Regions from separate parts of the Homo sapiens genome. Here region 1 is linked to region 2. Evidence: fine-mapped expression QTL. Tissue or cell type: whole blood. Region 2 holds a variant in brackets; the other region holds the start of a gene. All regions are shown on one strand. Distances are from middle to middle.

Region 1 (8,173 bases), 28 kb before region 2:
CCTGGTTTGGGAACTTCGTACTATTTCCATTTAGAGAGAACCCCAGCAAGCTGACACTGTTTGCTTCTTTATACATCAACTTGGTCATCAGTCCCTTTTCCTCCCTCCAACTCTCAAACTTTCTCTATTCAAAATGAAGGGAAAAGCGAAAATCCTTAAGTCTCAGATTGTTGTTTCGTTTTGTTCTCCTAACTATAAAAGAAAACCACTGGTCTTAGTGTGTGTCTGACTTACCACCCAATTTATAAATGCTCCTCCTTGCTGTGGTCAAGGTGATCATTAACTAATTAGTAGGTGAGGAGTTTAATTTTTTGTTCCGTGCAGCCATACATCAAGAAAGAAGAGAATGGTGCAGTCTCCTTAGGCAGTAGGGAGGCTGTGTGGTAGGTTTCCTTCCTGCCAGTTAAAGGACAAGTAAAGTGGACTAAGGTCGCATTCCCCCACAGAACCACTGCCCCAGACGCTGGCTGGTTCCTGGCCTTATCTCAAGTAGGATGGCAGCAGTGGGAAAGGTTGAGACATTGCTTCCTGCTTCAGAATGCTTTGGAAACCTGCTTCAGATTTTAGGAATGATTTATACACTTTTTGGAAAGCAAATAATGATGTAAGTTAAATGATACACTTTTCCCTTGAAAATTTATACATTTTTTGAAAAGATCTTAGGAATGAGAGTTTCCCCAAACAACTCCCTTCATAGGAGTTCCTGAGGCACTGAACCATTTTATCAGTAGACCCTGCCCCCCTGTATACCTAAATCGGCCACAGTTTGCTGGGCTGCAGTTCCCCAGCCAGCCAGAAATGGAAGGGTTTTTAATCTGTGGCTGGTGGTCTTACATCAAAAGAAGAAAACAGTCAAATTCTCCCCACTTCCTCTTATCTTTTTTGTAGTTCATATCCAACCAAGGCTTTTTTCCCCCCAAAATGCATTTGCTGACAATTTATTAAGCCCAGGAAATTCTGGGTTTCATTTTGGTCCTCTTGCAGAGAGGAAAATGGGTGGTTCCCCTCAAAGCTTCCCCAGGATTGTTCCTCCTAGTTGCTATCTCTGGTTTACTACTGACCCCAAACCCAAGCCACTGAGCCTATTTGTCTTAAGGAAAAGATGGAGGAGCAGTGATACCACACTCGGGGTCTGGGTTGGGCACTGTGGAGGTGCTGGTGGAAGACCATGCCTGAGAAGGAGTGGCGAGGGCCCAGAAGGTCTGTGTTGAGCTGCAGGTGCACCTGAGGCAGCACAGTGGGTCTCCTCTGCTGACAACTCTTTCTGCCCTTTCCCCTCCAGTGTTGGGGCTCTCTCCAGGGTAATGTCCTCCTCTTCTTTCCTTCTCACTCTACATGGTTCACTCAGCCCAGGCAAGCTCAGCCATCCATAATTCCCCATAGGGCACTATTTGGGACAGGACAACTCTTTGTTGTGCAAGATAGCACTATGAACTGAATAAAGTCCGCAGTAGTGCTCCTCAGTCATCGTGACAACCAAGCCTCCCTGACACATTTCCAAATGTCTCCTGGGTGGCGGGGCAGTGCAGTACTGCTCAGTAGAGGAGCAAAGGACTCCTGAGTTTACATTTCCACCCCTGATAGTATCCCTGCACTCCAGACCCCTGCACCCAAGGAAATTTCTCAAAGGCACCTTGTGTCCTGTCCCAGAGACATCTTTTTTTTTTTTTTTTTTTTGACATAGTTTTGCTGTCATTCAGGCTGGAGTGCAGTGGTACGATCTCAGTTCATTGCAATCTCTGACTCCCAGACTCAAGCGATTCTCAGCTTCCCAAGTAGCTGGGATTACAGGCATGTGGCACCACACCCAGCTAATTTTTGTATTTATAGTAGAGACAGTTTCACCGTGTTGGCCAGGTTGGTCTCAAACTCCAGACCTCAAGCGATCTGCCTACCTTGGCCTTTCAAAGTGCTGGGATTACAGGCATCAGCCACCACACCTGGCCTCCAGAGACATCTTAAACTCAACTTTTCAAACCTGATCTCATCATTTTAATCTACTCTGACTAGTAAATGACGCTACCACTTCCCATTCTCAAACTGAGCCTAGGTGTTTTCCTAAATCCTCCTCTGAACTCTTTTACCCAGCTAGTGTTCCAGCACACAACCAAAGGTGAAATTCTCTAGCCCATCATATTTTCTAGATACTTCAGGTTACAGCCACCCCAACCTAGCCCCTAATCCAGTCAGAGAGTGGGTTCTAATGCAAAGCTGATGAGATCAAGGTTAGTTCGCTGCTGCTCTAATCTTCAAAGCTTTGTCTACGGAACCATAGTAGAGGTAGTCTGCCTGAGCAGTGGAAGACCATGAGTTTGAGGTAAGATGAAGGAGAACTTAACTGTGTTTCTGCACCTTAGGTGCATGACTTTTAAGCAGGCTCTGAGCAGATAGAGGGCCAAGGGCCCCTCCCTGTGGCGTCTTTTCTCTCTGAGGCCTCCATCAAAGCCCTCGGGCTCTGTCATAATTGTTGACTTTATCTGTCTGCCTCCCTCAGTAAACTTGGGAGCAGGGGCTGTGTCCTCCTTTCTGGGCCCTCAGCCCAGTGCCTGGCACATGGCAGGCACCCTTTCATGAGTGAATGTTTGTGGAATGAAGTACTGAGTTGGAAATCACTCTGCAAGCTGGGTAGAGCTGGACCACTTTCCCTTACTCATAATACCATCTGGCATTTGCAACAGTAAACACTAACAGCCTCACTTTAATTCAGGACCTTGGGTGGAGGCTCCAAAGAGTGGAATGAGCACTAGAATGGGGAGTCTGAACATCTGAGTCCTTGTCGTGGCTCTGTTAACTAACAAAACCTATCACCTTGGGTATGGTACTTTCTTCAACTGAGGAGATGGAGAGTCAGCTGGGACAAGGGTTCTATAGAGGGGCTTAGAGCGGCTTAAAGGGAGTCCTTGAGCAGTCTGAAATTGTTGCCAAACTCAGTCTATTTGCATTCTGTGGAGGGGACACCACAGATTCTTAAATAGTCAAGAACTGCTAACCTGGATAAGCTTCTGAATTACTGCAGTTTACATACTGACGCATGTACTTTGAGGGAAAAGAGGTACAGGGGAGCAGCAGAGATGGCTGGCACTCATCCCACATACCCACTGCCATCCCAGGCCCATCTGAGAGGGACTTTGTCAAGGGAGGCTTGGCATGACTAGGCTGCTGACTCAGCCACTTCCTAAACTTTGGTGCCACAAGCCAGGGAGCAAAAGGCAGGGTCTAAGGCAGAGGACACACATACAGAATGCTCCTAAAGGGACAGAGGCACGGGATTGGAAAGAAAAACTGCTGGAAAGTGAACCAGACAGGGTCTTAGGGAGAGAAGGATCCTTACAGACAAGGGAGCTATCAAGATCCACAAGTCTGGCACAGGCAAGGGGAACAGCAGGGGTTCTGGAGATGGAGGCCTAGACTGGAAGGAAAGGAGAAGGAGCTGGCACTTCCTGAGCACGTACTAAGTGCTGAGTACTCTTGTGATCATCATAATCCTGCAAGGGAGGTTTATCAGTCCCAAGCAAGGGAGTTAAATACAAGTTCTGCTGTTTCTAAGTGTCCTCTGGCCCCCCTTTCTCTGCTCTGCACGGTCTGCCCCGATAATTCAGACAGCCTTAGCATTTCCTTTGGAAAGGTCAATGACAAGAGGCTGGACTATGAATCTGCAGCTGGCAAAGGAGAGAGAAAGCTTCATTCAAACAGTTTGCAACCGTCCTGGGCACCGGCCACGTGCCAGCCACGGGGCTAGGTTCCGGGAGGCACACGACTAGATCCCTGCCCTTCGCAACAGCCACTACCTGCTGCCCCCACACCCCGAGGGGAACCAGCTGGGATCTGGGCAGCCAGGGCGCTTAAGGTGCGGGGCCGGCGCCAGGCTGGAAGTGGGAAGCCAGGACTATGGCTGGGCTCAGAGGAGAGTGAGGCAGGATCGGTATGCTTCCCACCCTCCTTCCCAGCTTACCAGGCGCAAGTCCCCCGGTCCGTGCACCACCAGGGAAAGGTTGTTGGGCTTGGCCGCCGCCGCCATGGAGCTCTTTTGGCTCTGGAGTGCGGCCTGGAAGGCGCGGGACGTTTGGTCGCTCTGGTGGCGCTACCCAGCCGAGGGTCCAGGGCACTGGATGGAAGGTGGGGCCTGGGAGAAGCGCCGCACGCAGGGGCGGGACTAGGCTTCCTCCTTTGTGCCAGCCTGGGCGGCGCTAGCGTGGAGGGGCGGGGCTTCCCAGCCTCCTCCAGACCCGGAGGCGGGGCGGGGCTTCGGGAGGGGGCTGGGAGCGAGAAGCCCGGGTGCTGGCTCCATCTGCAGCGCGCTGTTTTTTTTGTTTGTTTGTTTGTTTGTCGCCGAGGCTGGAGTACAGTGGTGCGATCCCGGCTCACTGCAAGCTCTGCCTCCCGGGTTCAAGCCATTCTCCTGCCTCAGCCTCCCGAATAGCTGGGACTACAGGCGCCCACCACCACGTATTTTTGTTTAGTAGAGACGGGGTTTCACCGTGTTAGCCAGGATGGTCTCGATATCCTGACCTCGTGATCCACCCGCCTCCGCCTCCCAAAGTGCTGGGATTACAGGCGTGAGCCACCGCGCCGGCCCTGCAGCGCGCTGTTTTTGCCGCCTCACATGCAAGCACACACGGCTGCCTTGAAAACCGCCTGCAGAGGCAGTAGGCACCAGACCAGCGCTCTCAAACGTTAGCTGCAGAAGAATTGGGGTGGGGAATGTGAGGCGCTGTTGAGAATGCACATTCTCAGGACCAGCACAGAGATTCTGATACAGTAGGTCTAGGTCTGAGGTGCTGCCTGAGGGTCCATATTCCTAGCAACGAGAATGCTGAGGCTGTGGGTGGAGCACGGTGTGCACTTTGCGAGACAGGTGCTACCATGACGCAGCGTCCACGTCGGCCCTTTGTCTCCAGCCCCCAGGAAAGGGCCTGGCACGAGTAGGAGTAAATGAATTCGTGCATCATTACATGGGCCTGGTGCTTAAGTATAAAAAAGACATGAGGCCGGGCGCAGTGGCTCTTGCCTGTAATCCCAGCACTTTGGGAAGCCGAGGCAGGTGGATCACCTGAGGTCAGGAGTTCGAGACCAGCCTGACCAATATGGTGAAAACCCCGTCTCTACTAAAAATACAAAAATTAGCCGGGCATGGTGGCATGCGCCTTAATCTCAGCTACTCGGGAGGCTGAGACAGGAGAATAGCTTGAACCTGGGAAGCAGAGGTTGCAGTGAGCTGAGATCATGCCATTCAACACCAGCCTGGGCAACAAGAGTGAAAATCTGTCTTTAAAAAAAAAAAAGCCATGAAATGGAATTTGTGAACCTCTTTCTCTCAACTGGATCTGCTGCTTCTATTCAAAGCAGAGTTTCTGCCCAAACTCTTCCTTCAAGCCTCTCAGCCCTCTGAGAAACAGTGAGGTTTTACTCTCTGAGGAGAGAGGCGCTTCTAGATAGGCCTAAGTCTATAAGGCCCCTCCCTCCTTTGAGGATAATGCTCAGGATTTCATTCCCTTACAGTCCCCCCTCCCCAATATGTAACCGCCCAATGGATTCACCTTGCCTGCTGCCTAGACAAAACTAATTTATCAAGACAGGGGAACTGCAATAGGGAAAGAGTTCATGCAGAACCAGCTATGCAGGAGACTGGAATTTCATTATTGCTCAAATCCGGCTCCCCAAGCATTCGAGCATACGGGGACTCAGAGTTTTTAAGGATAGTTTGATGGGTGGGGAAAGGCCAGTGAGTCAGGAGTGCTGATTGTTTGGGTCAGAGATGAAATCATAGGGGATCTAAGCTGTCTTCTTGGACTGAGTCAGTTTCTGGGCGAGGGCCACAAGGTCAGATAAGTGAGTTTATCAATCTGGTTGGTGCTACGCCTTGAGGGACCGGTGCCAGTATAGGCTGTATTTGTTCCTTGCTGAGGGCCCTGGTTCCTCTGGCTAAGATTAGGCCTAGATATTTGACTTGTTGTAGGCAGAGCTGGGCTTTCAGTTTAGACACCTTGCCCGCTTGATTACCTAGAAAGTTCAAGAGATCTAGAGTAGCCTGCTGGCATGAGGCTTCCAAATTGGTAGCCAAAAGTAAATCATCCAGATTCCGTTCCAAGATGGCCAAATAGGAACAGCTCCGGTCTGCAGCTCCCAGTGTGATCGATGCAGAAGACGGTGATTTCTGCATTTCCAACTGAGGTACCTGGTTCATCTCATTGGGACTGGTTGGACAGTGGCTGCAGCCCATGGAGGGTGAGCCGAAGCAGGGAGGGGCATTGCCTCACCCGGGAAGCGCAAGCGGTTGGGGGATTTCCCTTTCCTAGCCAAGGAAAGCTGTGACAGACTGTACCTGGAAAATCAGGACACTCTCACCCAAATACTGCACTTTTCCAACGGTCTTAGCAAATGGCACACCAGGAGATTAAATCCTGTGCCTGGCTCAGTGGGTCCCACGCCCACAGAGCCTTGCTCACTACTAGCACAGCAGTCTGAGGCAGCAGCCTGGCAGGGGAGGGGCGTCCGCCATTGCTGAGGCTTGAGTAGGTAAACAAAGCAGCCGGGAAGGTTGAACTGGGCAGAGCCCACCGCAGCTCTGCAAGGTCTGCTGCCTCTGTAGACCTCACCTCTGGGGGCAGGGCATAGGTGAACAAAAGACAGCAGAAACTTCTGCAGACTTAAACGTCCCTGTCTGACAGCTCTGAAGAGAGCAGTGGCTCTCCCAGTACAGTGTTTGAGCTCTGAGAATGGACAGACTGCCTCCTCAAGTGGGTCCCTGGCCCCCATGTAGCCTAACTGGGAGACACTTCCCAGTAGGGGCCAACTGACACCTCATACAGGCGGGTGCCCCTGTGGGACGAAGCTTCCAGAGGAAGGATCAGGCAGCAACATTTGCTCTTCTGCAATATTTGCTGTTCTGCAGCCTCCACTGGTAATACTCAGGTAAACAGGGTTTGGAGTTGACCTCCCGCAAACTCCAACAGATCTGCAGCTGAGGGACCTGACTCTTAGAAGGAAAACTAGCAAATAGGAATAGCATCAACATCAACAAAAAGGACATCCACACCAAAACCCCATCTGTAGGTCACCAGCATCAAAGGTAGATAAAACCACGAAGATGGGGAGAAACCAGAGCAGAAAAACGGAAAATTCTAAAATCCAGAGTGCCTCTTCTCCTCCAAAAGATCACAGCTCCTCATCAGCAACGGACCAAAGGTGGACGGAGAATGACTTTGATGAGCTGAGAGAAGTAGGCTTCAGAAGGTTGGTAATAACATACTTCTCCCAGCTAAAGGAGGATGTTCAAACCCATCGCAAAGAAGCTAAAAACCTTGAAAAAAGATTAGACGAATGGCTAACTGGAATAAATAGTGTAGAGAAGACCTTAAATGACCTGATGGAGCTGAAAACCATGGCACAAGAACTATGTGATGCATGCACAAGCTTCAACAGCCAATTCATTCAAATGGAAGAAAGGATATCAGTGATTGAAGATCAAATTAATGAAATAAAGTGAGAGGAGAAGTTTAGAGAAAAAAGAGTAAAAAGAAATGAACAAAGCCTCCGAGAAATATGGGACTATGTGAAAAGACCAAATCTACATTTGATTGGTGTACCTGAAAGTGACAGGGAGAATGGAAACAAGTTGGAAAACACTCTTCAGGATATTATCCAGGAGAACTTCCACAACCTAGCAAGACAGGCCAACATTCAAATTAAGGAAATACAGAGAACACCACAAAGATACTCCTCAAGAAGAGCAACCCCGAGACACACAATTGCCAGATTCACCAAGGTTGAAATGAAGGAAAAAATGTTAAGCGCAGCCAGAGAGAAAGGTCGGATTACCCACAAAGGGAAGCCCCTCAGACTAGCACTGGATCTCTCAGCAGAAACTCTACAAGCCAGAAGAGAGTGGGGGCCAATATTCAACATTCTTCAAGAAAAGAATTTTCAACCCAGAATTTCATATTCAGCCAAACTAAGCATCATAAGTGAAGGAGAAATAAAATACTTTACAGACAAGCAAATGCTGAGAGGTTTTGTCACCACCAGGCCTCCCTTACAAGAGCTCCTGAAGGAAACACTAAACATGGAAAGCAACAACCAGTACCAGCCACTGCAAAAACATGCCAAATTTTAAAGACCATCAATGCTAGGAAGAAAATGCATTAAATAATGGGCAAAATAACCAGCTAACATC
Region 2 (8,186 bases):
TGTCTATATGTCTATAAACATTTTGGTCACAACTATTTAACCAATATGTAAGAAGTTCCTAACTTTTCCTAGTCTTTTTTCTCCTTCTGAGCCCTCCAAACTCTTCCAACCTCTGCCCATTAACTAGTCCAAAGCCATTTCCACATTTTCAAGTATCTTTATAGCAACACCCACTCCTCAGTATTAATTTTCTGTCTTCATCTGTTTTGTGTTGCTATAAAGGAATACCTGAGGCTGAGTAATTTATAAAGAAGAGGTTTATGTGGCTCACAGTTCTGCAGGCTGTGTGATAAGCATGGCACCAGCATCTGCTTCTGGTGAGGGCTTCAGGCTGTTTCTACTCATCGTGAAGGTAAAGAGGAGCCAAGGTGTGCAGAGAGTACATGGTGAGAGAGGAAGCAAGAGAGAGTAGAGGGGTGCCAGGCTCTTTTTAACAAACAGCTTTGGTGGGAACTAACAGAGCAACAATTCACTCACTCACTCTCACTTCCCCAACCCCAGAGGGAGGGCATTAATCTATTCATGTGTCGTCTATGCCCATGGCACAAACACCTCCCATTAGGCCCTACCTTCAACATGGGAATCAAATTTCAACATGAGGTGTTGGGGGACAAACATCTAAATTATAGCAGATGCCTATAGCAGACATCCAGGTGAAATGACCAAACAATATAGGGCACGTGCTATGTAGGAGACTGGGAAAGTCTAGGCTTGAAGGTCTAGATGAAATTTGGAAGTCATTGGTATATAGACTATTGAGAGCAGTAAGTGAGAAGAAGATAATCTAGAGACTGAACACACAATTTGAAAAAGGACATAGCTCAGGTCCAAGCTCTGAGCATCAAACATCAAGGAACTAGGAAAAATGAAGAGGAAACAGCAAAGGATCCTGAGAATAAGTGAAGGCACAAAAAGCATTGTTTTAAGAAAAAAGTGTTCAAGTGTTTAATACTGATAAGAAGTCAAGATGGAAACCAAAGAATATCTAGTGGATTCAGCAACAAGGAGGTAATTGGTAATCATGCAAACGGAGTTTTGGTGGAAAGATGGGAGTGGGAGCCATATTGGGACGGGATCATTCATCCATTTATTCAGCAACTATGTAATAAGTGTCTGTGACATGCTGGTACACGGTGCTGGGGATACAATGAATCTGACAGACACAATCCCCACTTAGGGGAGGAGAAGCCATTAAGCAGATAATCATAGAAGTAATGACTCAAACACAATTATGGTAAGGGCTATGAAGGAAAAGAAAAGAAAACCATGAAAGTGTGTAGCAGAGGAACCTAGTCTAGCTTGAAAGCAAGGGAAGTTTGCCCTGAGGGAGTGATAGATAAAGCTGTACTTGAGAGACTTGAGTTGTGACAGCAGTGAGGCTAGGGAGGGAGATTGTGTGTTCCAGGCAGAAGGAACCACAAACGTGGAGTCCAAGAGGGCGAGACCATCATGAAAAGTCAGCAGTGTGGCAGAATCACAGTGAACAAGGAGAGAGTGGCACAAAACAACAAAAACAACAACAGCAACTAGAGCCTAGCAAGTGACCCAACCCAGGGGTTCACATAGATCCTCCAGTGTTTTACACTGTAGGAAATGCCAGGGTGCAAGAAGAAAGGTAGTGAGAAGGCCTATGGCTGAAGACCTTAAGGCAAAAGCTAGAAAATTATACTTCTCTAGGGTGAGGAGTTCACTCTGATGTACAAAGTCTATTTTTTTCAAGCAAAAAATAATGGAATAGCACTGACTTTTATTCATTCATGTGAAGTCACCTGAAATGATATCTGTTGCATTTAAATGCTCATTAATAATATAAATGACTTAACAAATCCATTTCAATGGATATTCAATATTCCACTTAGATAAGTCACACAGCCTCATGACAACGCATATAACATATATAAACAGACAGGGATAAACACCTCCTCCCCCTCAGTTGATTTATTCAGCATGTTAGAGCAGTGAAGAATGGTTTCAGTCTTATAACCAAGTTAGAGTGAAGACACTGGCCGCATAATACACATGCTCCATTTGTAAAACAATTATCAGTCTTGGGCAACCGTTCTCTTGAAACCTTACAGTTTTTAAAAGCAGTTATTGTCCAAAGCTGGGAGAACTTAAGTCTTCTCAAATGAGCATGTGAATGAATGGAGGGAGGTAAACAGAAAATAAAATTTAAAAAGATGAGGTCTGATATGGGAGCAGCTGGATTAGAAACTAAAAAAGCGGCTAGGCACAGTGGCTCACACCTAGAATCCCAGCACTTTGGGAGGCCAAGGCAGGCAGATCGGTTGAGCTCAGGAGTTCAAGACCAACCTGGGCAACATGGTGAAACCCTGTCTCTACAAAAAAATAAAATAAAAAATAAATACAAAAATACAAAAATTAGTCAGGTGTGGTGGCACATGCCCGTAATCCCAGCTACTTGGGTGGCTGAGGCAGGAGAATCACTCGAACCCAGGAGGTGGAGGCTGCAGTGAGTGGAGAAGGAGAGAGAGAGAGAGAGACAGAGAGAGAGAGGAAGGGAGGAAGGTAAAAAGGAATAGTAATTTAAAGTTTATTTCAGCTATAATGCAGGTTATTCTGACTTCAAGGTAGCATCACATGGCATACTTCTGAGTCAATTCTCGACATATTCTGTTGTGTTTATCTCTGTCTGTTTATATAAAAAGGCACAATGAGACATTTCTAAACATGGCAGGATCTCAAGAAATATTGTTTCCATGAGCTTTCCTTGAATAAACTACTAGAAGATGAACTTCAACCAAGAAATAAATGGGAAAACTATGGCAAAAAGAGAGGTCATCAAGAGCAGGATAGGGAGAAGATGAGAAAATATTCTAATTTCATTGTTTATTCATATCAGGGGATTGATAGATAGTGCCTAAGAGAGGAAGATTAAGTAAATACATTATAAAGACCATCACTGAAATAAAAATATAACCTTTTCAGATTTTCAGAAAAAATAAAACCAAATACATACCATAACATCAGAATTTTTAAAGGATCTATTAAATAATAGAAGACATCATATAAAGTTATATATATTGTATTAATAATTAATACCAAGTATTTCAATTTGATAAATCTAAATGTGCTAAACTAATGTATTAAAATAAAATAAATTTCAGCCAGTCTTGGTGACCCACACCTGTGATCCTAGCACTTTGGGTGGCTTAGGCAGGAGGATCGTTTGAGCCCAGGAGTTCATGACCAGCCTGGGCAACACAGTGAGACCCCATCTCTATTTTTTATTTAAAAAATAATAAAAATTGAAAGTAAAATAAAATAAAGTAAATTTGGATTAAATCATAAAGCAAAATTCAAATCTATGCTGTACACAAGGGATCCAAAACAAAATAAATCAGAAATCTTTACAATTGTAAATTAGAAGAAAGCAATGGTTATAAGTTTTTTTTGCTTCATTTTGTTTCTCTTTCTTCCTTTTTATTTTCTATTACACTTTAAATTCTAGGGTACATGTGCACAATGTGCAGGTTTGTTACACAGGTATACATGTGCCATGTTGGTGTGCTGCACCCAACAACTTGTCATTTACATTAGGTATTTCTCCTAATGCTATCCCTCCCCCAGCCTCCCAAGCCCTGACAGGCCCCGGTGTGTGATGTTCCCTGCCCTGTGTCCATGTGTTCTCATTGTTCAACTCCCACCTATGAGTGAGAACATGAGGTGTTTGGTTTTCTGTCCTTGTGATAGTTTGCTGAGAATGATGGTTTCCAGCTTCATCCATGTCCCTCCAAAGGACATGAACTCACTCTTTTTATGGCTGCATTGTATTCCATGGAATCGCCACACTGTCTTCCACAATGGCTGAACTAATTTACACTCCCACCAACAGTGTAAAAGTGTTCCTGTTTCTCCATATCCTCTCCAGCATCTGTTGTTTCCTGACTTTTAAATGATCACCATTCTAACTGTTGGAGATG[G/A]TATCTCACTGTGGTTTTGATTTGCATTTCTCTGATGACCAGTGATGATGAGCATTTTTTCATGTGTCTGTTGGCTGCATAAATGTCTTCTTTTGAGAAGTGTCTGTTCATATCTTTTGCCCGCTCTTTGATGGGGTTGTTTGTTTTTTTCTTGTACATTTGTTTAAGTTCTTTGTAGATTCTGGATATTAGCCCTTTGTCAGATGGGTAGATTGCAAAAATTTTCTCCCATTCTGTAGGTTGCCTGTTCACTCTGATGACAGTTTCTTTTGCTGTGCAGAAGCTCTTTAGTTTAACTAGACCCCATTTGTCTATTTTGACTTTTGTTAACATTGCTTTTGTTGTTTTAGTCATGAAGTTGTTGCCCATGCCTATGTCCTGAATGGTATTGCCTAGGTTTTCTTCTACAGTTTTTATGGTTTTAGGTCTTACATTTAAGTCTTTAATCCATTTTGAGTTAATTTTTGAATAAGGTGTAAGGAAGGGATCCAGTTTCAGCTTTCTACATTTGGCTAGCGAGTTTTCCCAGCACCATTTATTCATAGGGAATCATTTCCCCATTGCTTGTTTTTGTCAGGTTTCTCAAAGATCAGATGGTTGTAGATGTGTGGTGTTATTTCTAAGGCCACTGTTCTGTTCCATTGGTCTATATATTTGTTTTGGTACCAGTACCATGTTGTTTTGGTTACTGTAGCCTTGTAGTGTAGTTTGAAGTCAGGTAGCATGATGCCTCATGCTTTGTTCTTTTTGCTTAGGATTATCTTGGCTATGCAGGCCCTTTTTTGGTTCCATATGAACTTTAAAGTAGTTTTTTGCAATTCTGTGAAGAAAGTCATTGGTAGCTTGATGGGGATGGCACTGAATCTATAAATTACCTTGGGCAGTAGGGCCATTTTCACGATATTGATTCTTCCTACCCATGAGCATGGAATGTTCTTCCATTTGTTTGTGTCCTCTTTTATTTCATTGAGCAGTGGTTTATGGTTCTCCTTGAAGAGGTCCTTCACATCCCTTGTAAGTTGGGTTCGTAGGTATTTTATTCTCTTTGTAGCAATCAGGAATGGGAGTTCCCTCATGATTTGGCTCTCTGCTTGTCTGCTATTGGCGTATAGGAATGCTTGTGATTTTTGCACATTGATTTTGTATCCTGAGACTTTGCTGAAGTTGCTTATCAGCTTAAGGAGTTTTTGGGCTGAGACAATGGAGTTTTTTTAAATATACAATCATGTCGTCTGCAAACAGGGACAATTTGACTTCCTCTTTTCCTAATTGAATACCCTTTATTTCTTTCTCTTGCCTGATTGCCCTGGCCAGAACTTCCAACACTATGTTGAATAGGAGTGGTGAGAGAGGGCATCCTTGTCTTGTGCTGGTTTTCAAAGGGAATGCTTCCATTTGTTGCCTATTTAGTATGATATTGGCTGTGGGTTTGTCATAACTAGCTCTTATTATTTTGAGGTACATTCCATCAATACCTAGTTTATTGAGAGTTTTTAGCATGAAGTGCTGTTGAATTTTGTCAAAAGCCTTTTCTGCATCTATTGAGATAATCATGTGGTTTTTATCATTGGTTCTGTTTATGTGATGGATTATATTTATTGATTTGCATATGTTGAACCAGCCTTGCATCCCAGGGATGAAGCTTACTTGATCGTGGTGGATAAGCTTTTTGATGTGCTGCTGGATTCAGTTTGCCAGTATTTTATTGAGGATTTTTGCATCGATGTTCATCAGGTGTATTGGTCTAAATTTCTCTTTTTTAGTTGTGTCTCTGCCAGGCTTTGGTATCAGGATGATGCTGGCCTCATAAAATGAGTTAGGGAGGATTTCCTCTTTTTGTATTGTTTGGATTAGTTTCAGAAGGAATGGTACCAGCTCCTCTTTGTACCTCTGGTAGAATTTGGCTGTGAATCCGTCTGGTCCTGGACGATTTTTTGGTTGGTAGGCTATTAATTATTGCCTCAATTTCAGAACCAGTTATTGGTCTATTCAGAGATTCAATTTCTTCCTGGTTTAGTCTTGGGAAGGTGTATGTGTCCAGGAACTTATTCATTTCTTCTAGATTTTCTAGTTTATTTGCATAGAGGTGTTTATAGTATTCTCTGATGGTACTTTGTATTTCTATGGGATTTTAAACTAAAGAGCTTCTGCACAGCAAAAGACACTGTCATCAGAGTGAATAGGCAACCTACAGAATGGGAGAAAATTTTTGCAATCTACCCATCTGACAAAGGGCTAATATCCAGGGTCTACAAAGAACTTACACAAATGTACAAGAAAAAAAACAAACAACCCCATCAAAAAGTGGGCAAAGGATATGAACAGACACTTCTCAAAAGAAGACATTTATGCAGCCAACAGACACATGAAAAAATGCTCATCATCACTGGTCATCAGAGGAATGCAAATCATTTTTTATTGTGGCTATTTGATCCTTCTCTCATTTCTTATTAGTCTTGCTAGTGGTCTATCTATTTTGTTGATCTTTTCAAAAAACCAGCTCCTGGATTCATTGATTTTTTTGAAGGGTTTTTGTGTCTCTATCTCCTTCAGTTCTGCTCTGATCTTAGTTATTTCTTGCCTTCTGTTAGCTTTTGAATATGTTTACTCTTGCTTCTCTAGTTCTTTCCATTGTGATGATAGGGTATTGAATTTAGATCTTTCCTGCTTTCTGTTGTGGGCATTTCATGCTATAAATTTCCCTCACACACTGCTTTAAATGTATCCCAGAGATTCTGGTACATTGTGTCTTTGCTCTTATTGGTTTCAAAGAACATCTTTATTTCTACCTTCATTTCGTTATTTACCCAGTAATTCAGGAGCAGGTTGTTCAGTTTCCATGTAGTTTTCCAGTTTTGAGTGAGTTTCTTAATCCTGAGTTCTAATTTGTTTGCACTGTGGTCTGAGAGACAGTTTGTTGTGATTTCTGTTCTTTTACATTTGCTGAGGAGGGCTTTACTTCTAATTATGTGGTCAATTGTGGAATAAGTGTGATGTGATGGTGAGAAGAATGTATATTCTGTTGATTTGGGGTGGAGAGTTCTGTAGATGTCTATTAGGTCCGCTTGGTGCAGAGCTGAGTTCAAGTCCTGGATATCCTTGTTAGCCTTCTGTCTCGTTGATCTGTCTAACATTGACAGTGGGGTGTTAATGTCTCCCATTATTGTGTGGGAGTCTAAGTCTATTTGTAGGTCTCTAAGGACTTGCTTTATGAATCTGGGTGCTCCTGTATTGGGTGCATATATATTTAGGATAGTTAGCTCTTCTTTTTGAATTGATCCCTTTACCATTATGTAATGGCCTTCTTTGTCTCTTTTGATCTTTGTTGATTTAAAGTCTGTTTTATCAGAGACTAGGATTGCAACCCCTGCTTTTTTTTTTTTTTTTTTTTTTTGCTTTCCATTTACTTGGTAGATCTTCCTCCATCCCTTTATTTTGAGCTGATGTGCATTTCTGCATGTGAGATGGGTCTCCTGAATACAGCACACTGATGAGTCTTGACTCTTTATCCAATTTGTCAGTCTGTGTCTTTTAATTGGGTCATTTAGGCCATTTACATTTAAGGTTAATATTGTTATGTGTGAATTTGATCCTGTCATTATGATGTTAGCTGGTTATTTTGCCTGTTAATTGATGCAGTTTCTTCCTAGCATTGATGGTCTTTAAAATTTGGCATGTTTTTGCAGTGGCTGGTACTGGTTGTTGCTTTCCATGTTTACTATTTCCTTCAGGAGCTCTTATAAAGGGAGGCCTGGTGGTGACAAAACCTCTCAGCATTTATTTGTCTGTAAAGGATTTTATTTCTCCTTCACTTATGAAGCTTAGTTTGGCTGAATATGAAATTCTGGGTTGAAAATTCTTTTCTCGAAGAATGTTGAATATCGGCCCCCACTCTCTTCTGGCTTGTAGAGTTTCTGCCGAGAGATCTGCTGTTAGTCTGATGGGCTTCCCTTTGTGGGTAACCTGATCTTTCTCTCTGGCTGCCCTTAACATTTTTTCCTTCATTTCAACCTTGGTAAGTCTGACAATTGTGTGTCTTGGTGTTGCTCTCCTCAAGGAGTATCTTTGTGGCGTTCTCTGTATTTCCTTAATTTGAATGTTGGCCTACCTTGCTAGGTTGTGGAAGTTCTCCTGGATAATATTCTGAAGAGTATTTTCCAACTTGTTTCCATTCTCCCTATCACTTTCAGGTACACAAATCAAATGTAGATTTGGTCTTTTCACAAGTCCCATATTTCTTGG

The links. PIP is the estimated chance that this variant, and not a neighbour inherited with it, causes the effect.
Region 1: SORD starts here. The variant in region 2 is fine-mapped to the expression of SORD in whole blood (INTERVAL, PIP 0.99).

The regions. Positions count from the first base shown.
Region 1 is chr15:45,019,129-45,027,301 of GRCh38, reverse strand. SORD (sorbitol dehydrogenase) reads right to left here and starts at 4,107. Exons shown (of 9, transcript NM_003104.6): 1 at 3,953-4,107. The coding sequence starts at 4,018. RefSeq lists silencers at 1,306-1,594, 4,158-4,327 and an enhancer at 2,738-3,388.
Region 2 is chr15:44,991,590-44,999,775 of GRCh38, reverse strand. No RefSeq gene overlaps it. Among named protein-coding and RNA genes, the nearest start is that of SORD, 28 kb to the left of the region's middle. The variant G/A (reference allele first, on the strand shown) is at 3,945.